2 linked regions of the Homo sapiens genome follow. The protein of the gene in region 2 purifies or fractionates together with the protein of the main gene of each other region. This does not show direct contact. Each region holds a gene or a part of one and is shown on either strand. Other genes may lie near its edges. The genes, in order: ECT2L and KCTD19.

The links.
Region 1: the proteins of KCTD19 (region 2) and ECT2L purify together in Homo sapiens (affinity purification with mass spectrometry; one large-scale study listed by BioGRID and IntAct). This does not show direct contact.

The regions. Positions count from the first base shown.
Region 1 is NC_000006.12:138,840,953-138,844,773, forward strand, and holds part of ECT2L (epithelial cell-transforming sequence 2 oncogene-like), read left to right. Parts: intron 1-2,026; coding exon 2,027-2,279; intron 2,280-3,459; coding exon 3,460-3,628; intron 3,629-3,821.
Region 2 is NC_000016.10:67,320,175-67,323,995, reverse strand, and holds part of KCTD19 (BTB/POZ domain-containing protein KCTD19), read left to right. Parts: intron 1-2,008; exon of another isoform or gene 2,009-2,334; intron 2,335-3,110; coding exon 3,111-3,407; intron 3,408-3,821. UniProt on the Homo sapiens protein: Transcription regulator which is essential for male fertility and for the completion of meiotic prophase in spermatocytes. Regulates progression of the pachytene stage of meiotic prophase and promotes the transcriptional activation activity ZNF541.

The sequences.
Region 1 (3,821 bases), on a different chromosome or scaffold from region 2:
TTCTGTGACCTTCAGTATTTCAGTCTGGATTTTCTTTGGACCTATCTTTCAGTTTACTAATTGTTTCTTTAGCTAGATTCTAATCTGATCTTAAACCCATCCATTGAGTTCTAAATTTCAGTTACTGTATATTTTCAGTTCTAGAATATTGATTTAATTCTTTTGCCAAAATTTTCTACCTAGTCATTTATTTTAGATATATTAATTATAGAGTATTTATTTCCGCAAAGTTCATGTCTGATGATTACAATATTTGGATCACCTGAGGATCTCTCTATAGTTATTAAAAACCAAAAAGAAAAAAGAATTCTTGTCTATTGTGTGTTCTAGTTAATTTTCATTGAGTACCAGATACTGAGTATACAAAATTAATGTGATCCTTTGAGTCTCTGGGTGATGTTTTCTTCCTCCAGAGAGAATTTACTTTTGCTTCTGGCACGTCTAGTGCTAGGAACAAATCCTACAAATCCAGTCAAGGAATGAGATGTTTCAAAGCTGGCTTCAGTCTTTGTGAGAGTTTGTCTAATTAAGTATTATCCTTCCTGAAAAGAATCTTAACTGAAAGCTGGTGTGATTACCAAGCCTCTCCCGTCTTAGTGGGCCCTAAATTTCCATTTGTGTCCTTTCTTCCCTGTGAGAATGCCTAAGATTCTTTTTTAGCATCTAAGTCTTTTAGTCATAACTTTCTGTTCTGCTTCTCAGCCTAACAAGCTTTGCTTTGGAACTGACAAATGCCTTGAAGTAAAAAGTGATGCCAAATATCAGGCTTACCTCTCTGGGTTTCCCTTCTTTCTGGGGTCTTGGTTGAACAAGTCCTTATTGCATTGATAGCTCTATAATATAGCCTTCAAATAATTGTTTGTATAATATTTGGTCTAGGTATTTCATCAGTTCAAACCACATGAAATTTTCTCTTGTCGTATGTCAAAATGGCTGAATATTGGCAATATCGTACGCTTCAGTCAAAATTATTCTCAATGAGAGGGTTAATCTGAAAGAAACTATTCCACTATTGCTAGAAGCTGAATTCTCAGAATCTAGGGTTAACGTAACCAAATGCTATTGGAACATTGGATAAGTGTCACAAAGATGTCTAATACATACATTCACATATAACATATATATTCATCAAATAATATTTTTCCTGTGGAACAAGATACGCTTCTTATTTCCAAGTCAAGTTCAGATAGTAAGTCAGTAATAGCATTTAAAAACGTTATATCTGGCCAGGTGCAGTGGCTTACACCTGTAATCCCAGCACTTTGGGAGGCTGAAGCGGGAGGATCACCTGAAGTCAGGAGTTCCAGACCGGCCTGGCCAACAGGGCAAAACCCCGCCTCTAGTAAAAATACACAAAAACTAGGTGGGCATGGTGGCATGCGCCTGTAATCCCAGCTACTCAGGAGGCTGAGGCAAGAGAATTGCTTGAACCCAGAAGGCAGAGGTTGTAGTGAGCTGAGATCGCGCCACTGCACTCCAGCCTGGGCGACAGAGCAGGACTCCATCTCAAAAAAAAAACATAGAAATAAAAATAAAAGTCCGGGTGCGGTGGTTCACACCTGTAATCCCAGCACTTTGGGAGGCCAAGGTGGGCGGATCACGAGGTCAGGAGATGGAGACCATCCTGGCTAACACGGTGAAACCTCGTCTCTACTAAAAAAACAAAAAAATTAGCCAGGCGTGGTGGCGGGTGCCTGTAGTCCCAGCTACTCTGGAGGCTGAGGCAGGAGAATGGCATGAACCCGGGAGGCGGAGCTTGCAATGAGCCGAGCTCGTGCCACTGCACTCCAGCCTGGGCGACAGAGTGAGACTCTGTCTCAAAATAAGTAAAATAAAATATAAAAAAAATTAAAACTTTCAATTTTATATAAACATTGTAGAAACAAATGGATTTGCATACAAATTCTCAGAGATTTTTGTACCAGAAATCTCAGTGTAATGAAAAAGTATCTGTGTACCTGAAAATATTATTGCTAGAAAACTGTCTGAAAACAATTTGTGACTCATCTTCCTCTTGTTTCTGAAGGATTGCTTATGGATGCCCAAATGCGTTAAGTTCGGATGGTTTCTGCCCTATACTCCAACAGATAATGAGTATGGTGCTTGGAAGCGCCATTACATTGCTTGTGTGTCCCACTTAGACTGGCTGACACCTAGGGAGGCTGCTGCTACTTATGGGACGCTGAATGAACCCAAAACAGAAGATGAGGAACTACTGGAGAGACAAAGAGAAAAGTGCCTGAGGAAAAGAATTTGGGAGAAAATTGCACTACGTAAGAGTAAGTAGCATTTTAAACCTTTATATCTTAGGTAAATATTGTAGACACAAATGGATTCACATACAAATTCCCACAGAGGACAGCCCTGTCTTTCGGAATACTCTGAGTGGCAGTCTTAAGTATTTTCCAGATGAGCTTTTTTCCGTACTGTATATTTCAAGTTAATTGATGAGAAAAACAAAGATTTCAGACAAAATACATAAGGTTAAATATCAGTGCTTCCATTGCTATTCTGGCTCCTCTCAGGCTTATAAGACCAAAAACAAAGAGGATAAAGATGTTTGAACATGGGGAAAAAAGCAAACAAATAGGTTCAAAACAGAGGAATTGGGAGTGATGAAAAGAGGAGGAGAAATGCAAGTGAAAATGGAAGCAGGGAAAATGGCATTTAAAAAGGGAGAAAGAGGACAGCTCTTTCCGCTCTTTTTAAAGCCTCTTTCAGTTAAGCCCCCTATTTATTTATTTATTTATTTTATTTTTGAGACAGGGTCTCACTGTCACCCAGGCTGTGCAGTAGTATGATCTCTGGCTCACTGCAGCCTCGATTTCTGAGGCTCAAGTGATCCTCCCACCTCAGCCTCCTGAGTAGCTGGGGCCACAGGTGCACACCACCATGCCTTGCTAATTTTTTGTATTTTTGTAGAGATGGGGTTTCTCCATGTTGGCCAGGCTGGTCCCGAATTCCTGGGCTCAAGTGACCCGCCCACCCTGGCCTCCCAAGGTGCTGGGATTACAGGCAGAGCCACGGCGCCCAGCCTCAGCTAGGCCTTATGCTTTATGCAGTGTGTAAAAGAAAACAGCAAAACTGATTAGAGTTCTCCCATGTTTTCTTCCCACTAACCCTCTGGTGAGATCGTGACAAATAAGAAATTGCTTGAAGGCAAGAAGAAGGGCACAAATGAATGTGACACCTATCAATTGATTAACTGGTCCCCACTAGAAAAGGGTTGCTTGTTTGCTTGTTCTCTGAGCTTTGTTTCTTGACCTGAAATGACCGGTAGCTCACAGCCACAGTGCCAAGAGGATGAGAAATCCAAACCGAGTGCATGAAAATGGCTGTAATTATTGTCATTTGGAACCTTGCCCTGGTACAGCTTTATTTTTGATGCCTTTATCTGTGTGGACTTGGCTGGGAGAAGTATGAAGTAATCAGCCCCGCCTGCTGTTCTTTGTTTTTCAGAGGAGTTATTCAAAGTTCGACCCCCTTGGGTGAGTGGAACTTGCTGCTCTAGCGTGCTAAAGCCCAGATGCCAACCACGCCTCTCCCAGACTGTAAGGGAGCGAGTGGGATTACATGAAGCTTTGGAGAAACAGCTTGTTTTGACATCGTTAGAAACCTTGCCCAAGCGGTAAGCAAAATTCCATCTACTGAAGGCTCAACACCATCCCAATACCAATAATTCACTCTAGAATAAATTTAGCTATCACGCAGAAATCTTGTGTAATTCTGTGGCTCATATCCTATGAAATATCAGTAAAGATAATTAATTTTCTAGAACAGTAGTCAAACATGCCTTCTGAAGAGGTAAACATATAACATAC
Region 2 (3,821 bases):
ATAGCATTCATCCTCCAGTAATGTAATGTCTCTGCAGGTAAGATCCCAAGAGAGTTCTGCATGCGCTCCATGGAATGGACAGTACCTCATCTTTTTTTTTTTTTGTAGATCTATTGAGATATAATTCACATACCATACAATTCACACATTTTAATGTGTACAATTCAGTGAGTTTTAGTATGTTCAGAGTTGTGCAACTATCATCACAATCAATTTTAGAACATTTTCACCATCCCCAAAAGAAATCCCATACTCATTAGTAGTCACACCCCATCTCCCCATAGCCTCTCCAGCCCTAGGCAACCACTAATCTATTTTCTATCTCTAGAAATTTGCCTTGTCCACACATTGCATGTGGATGGAATCATATGTGATTTTTTGTTTGGCTTCTTTCCCTTGGCATAATGTTTCGAATTTCATCCATGTTGTTATCATGTATCAGTACTTCATTCCTTTTTATTTTTTATTTTTTTAGAGACGTGCCTCACTCTGACGCCCAGGCTGGAGTGCAATGGCACGATCACAGCTCACTGCAGCCTCAAACTCCTGGGCTCAAGTGAATCTCCTGCCTCAGCCTTCCAAAGTGCTGGGATTACAAGCACAAGCCACCATGTTCATCCCATTCCTTCGTATTGACAAACAATATTCCATTGTGTGGATATACTACATTTTGTTTACTCATCTGTCAGTTGATGGACATTAGGTTTATTCCAACCTTTTGGCTATTATGTTCTATGAACATTAGTCTAGAAATTTTGGTGTGGACATATGTCTTTATTTGTCTTAAGTGTACACCTAGGAGTGGAATTGCTGGCTCATAGTAGAATAACTCCATGCTTTACATTTTCAGGACCCACCAAACTGTTTTCCAAAGTGCCTGCACCATTTTACACCTCCACCAGCAGTGCATGGGGGTTCTGGTTTCTTTGTCGACACTTGTTATTACCTATTGTTTTCATTGTAGCCATACTAATGGGTGTGAAGTAGTATTCTGTTGTGGGTTTTGATTTGCATTTCTCTGATGACTAAGGATGTTGAGCATCTTTTTTCGTTCTGTTGGTCATTTGTATATATTCTTTGGAGAGATGTCTATTTAGATGCTTTGCCAATTTTTAAATTTGGTTGTCTTTTTGTTATTGAGTTTAAGAGTTCTTTATATATTCTAAAAACAAGTTCTTTATCAGACAAATGATTTGCAAATATTTTGTTCCATTCTGTGAGTTATCTTTTCACCTTCTTGATGGTGCCCTCTAAAGCACAAATGTTTTTAAATTTTGATTAAGTTCCATTTATCTATTTTTTTGGTCACTTTTGCTTTTAGTGTCACATCTAAGAAAGTTTTGCCTACTCCAAAGTCATGAAGATTTTCTATTTTCTTCTAAAGATTTTATGGTTTTAGGCTGGGTGCAGTGGCTCACGCCTGTAATCCCAGCACTTTGGGAGGCCAAAGCAGGTGGATCACGAGGTCAGGAGATCGAGACCATGCTGGCTAACACAGTAAAACCCCATCTCTACTAAAAATACAAAAAATTAGCCGGGCGTGGTGGCGGGTGCCTGTAGTCCCAGCTACTCAGGAGGCTGAGGCAGGAGAATGGAGTGAACCCGGGAGGTGGAGTTTGCAGTGAGCCGAGATTGTTACCACTACACTCCAGGCTGGGTGATACAGCGAGACTCCGTCTCAAAAAAAAAAAAAAAAAGATTTTATAGTTTTAGGTCTGTTTCACTTGCAGCTAATTTTTGTGTATGGGTTGAGGTAGGGGTCCAACTTTATTATTATTGTTATTATTATCTTTTATGCATATGGATGGGCAGTTGTCCCAGCACCATTTTTAATAAGGACTATTCTTTGTCCATTGAATCATCTTGGATTGCTTATCAAAATTCAATTGATCATAAGTGTAGGGGTTTTATTCTGTACTCTCAATTCTATTCCACTTATCTTTATATTTATCCTTATGCTGGTAGCACACTGTCTTGATCTAGCTTTGAAATAAGTTTTAAAAGTGTGGGATGTGAGGGTGATCTGGCTGTGACATCTGTCACTCCATTGATTGCCAGGGTTGATTTGGCTGATCTGGCTGTCTAGGCGGGTGTCCCCTTCTTCCCTCAACGCTCCACGTGCGTCCCTCCTGAAGCTGCGTGCTCAGTCAAAGAGGACGACCATCCCCAATAAAGGAGGACCAGTCTTCAGTCAAGGGTATACAAGTATCTGCTCTTCCTAGCTAGAACCTCCAAACAAGTTCTTAAGATCCGTTGTAGGAGAACGTAGGGTAGTCAAGCTTCCAAGACTTCAGACACATCCTAATGAGGCGCTGCATGTGGCAGTCTGCCTTTAAAAAAAAAAAGTGGGAAATGTGACTTCTTAAACGTTCTCCTTTTTTCAAGACTGTTTTAGCTATTCTGGATCCCTTGTATTTTCATATGAATTTTAGCATCAGTTTTTCAATTTTTGCAAAAAGTCAGGATTTTCACAGAGATTGTGTTGAATTTGTAAATCAATTGGGAGACTATTGCCATCTTAACGATATTAAATCTTCCAATCCATGAGCATGAGATATTTTTTCATTTATTTAGGTCTTTTAAATTTTCAACAATGTTTTGAAGTTTCCAGTGCACATGTATTTCATTCTTTTGTTAAATTTATTCCTAAGTATGTTATTTTTGATGCTATTGTAAATGGAATTGAATTGTTTTCTTAATTTCACTTTCAGATTGTTCATTGCTGAAGTATAAAAATACAACATTTTTAAATATTGCTCTGCATCTTTCAACCTTGTTGGGCTCATTTTTTTGTTTGTTTTTCTTTTTTGAGACAGGATCTTGCTCTGTTAGGCCAGAGTACAGTGGCACAATCATAGCTCACTGCAACCTCAAACTCCTGGTCTCAAGCCACCTTCCCACCTCAGGCTCCCAAAGTGCTTGGATTACAGGTGTGAACCACCATGCCTGGCCTGGACTTATTTCTAATAGTTTTCTGGTGAATTCCTTAGGATTTTTTATATACAAGATCATGTCATCAGCAAACAGAGATAGTTTATTTCTACCTTTTCAATCTGGATGCCTTTTTATTTCTTTTTCTTGCGTAGATCTCTTTTTCATTCCCCCTTTAGGAGGAGTCTGGCATGGCTCATGAATCAGCAGAGGACTTGTTTCATTTCAACGTAGGGGGCTGGCATTTCTCAGTTCCCAGAAGCAAACTCTCTCAGTTTCCAGACTCCCTGCTGTGGAAAGAGGCTTCAGCCTTGACCTCTTCAGAAAGCCAGAGGCTATTTATCGACAGAGATGGTTCCACATTTAGGCACGTGCACTATTACCTCTACACCTCCAAACTCTCCTTCTCCAGTTGTGCAGAACTGAACTTGCTGTATGAGCAAGCATTGGGTTTGCAGCTGATGCCTTTGCTGCAGGTAAGATGCTCTTGTTTTCTGGGAGTGGTGGATCAGTAACATGGCTTTACATCACTAAATATTGTTTCCTGTTATATATTGGTTGCTGAGATGACCCTCTTAATGGGCAAATGTAATAAGTGTGTTAAAGTAATAAATAATTTCCTCATTAGTATAGGGGTGAGTAAAAAGGAAAAAAAAGTAATAAACAATACACTGAAATTACCTGCTTTTGTTTTTTCGAGACAGGGTGTCTGCTGCAATCACAGCTCACTGCAACCTCCACCTCCCAAGCCCAAAGGATCTTCCCACCTCCCACCTCAGTCCCTCTGAGTAGCTGGGAACACAGGTGCATGCCACCATGCCCGGCCAATCCTTTCCATGTTGACCAGATTGGTCTTGAACTCCTGGGCTCAAGTCGTCCTCTCTAATTGG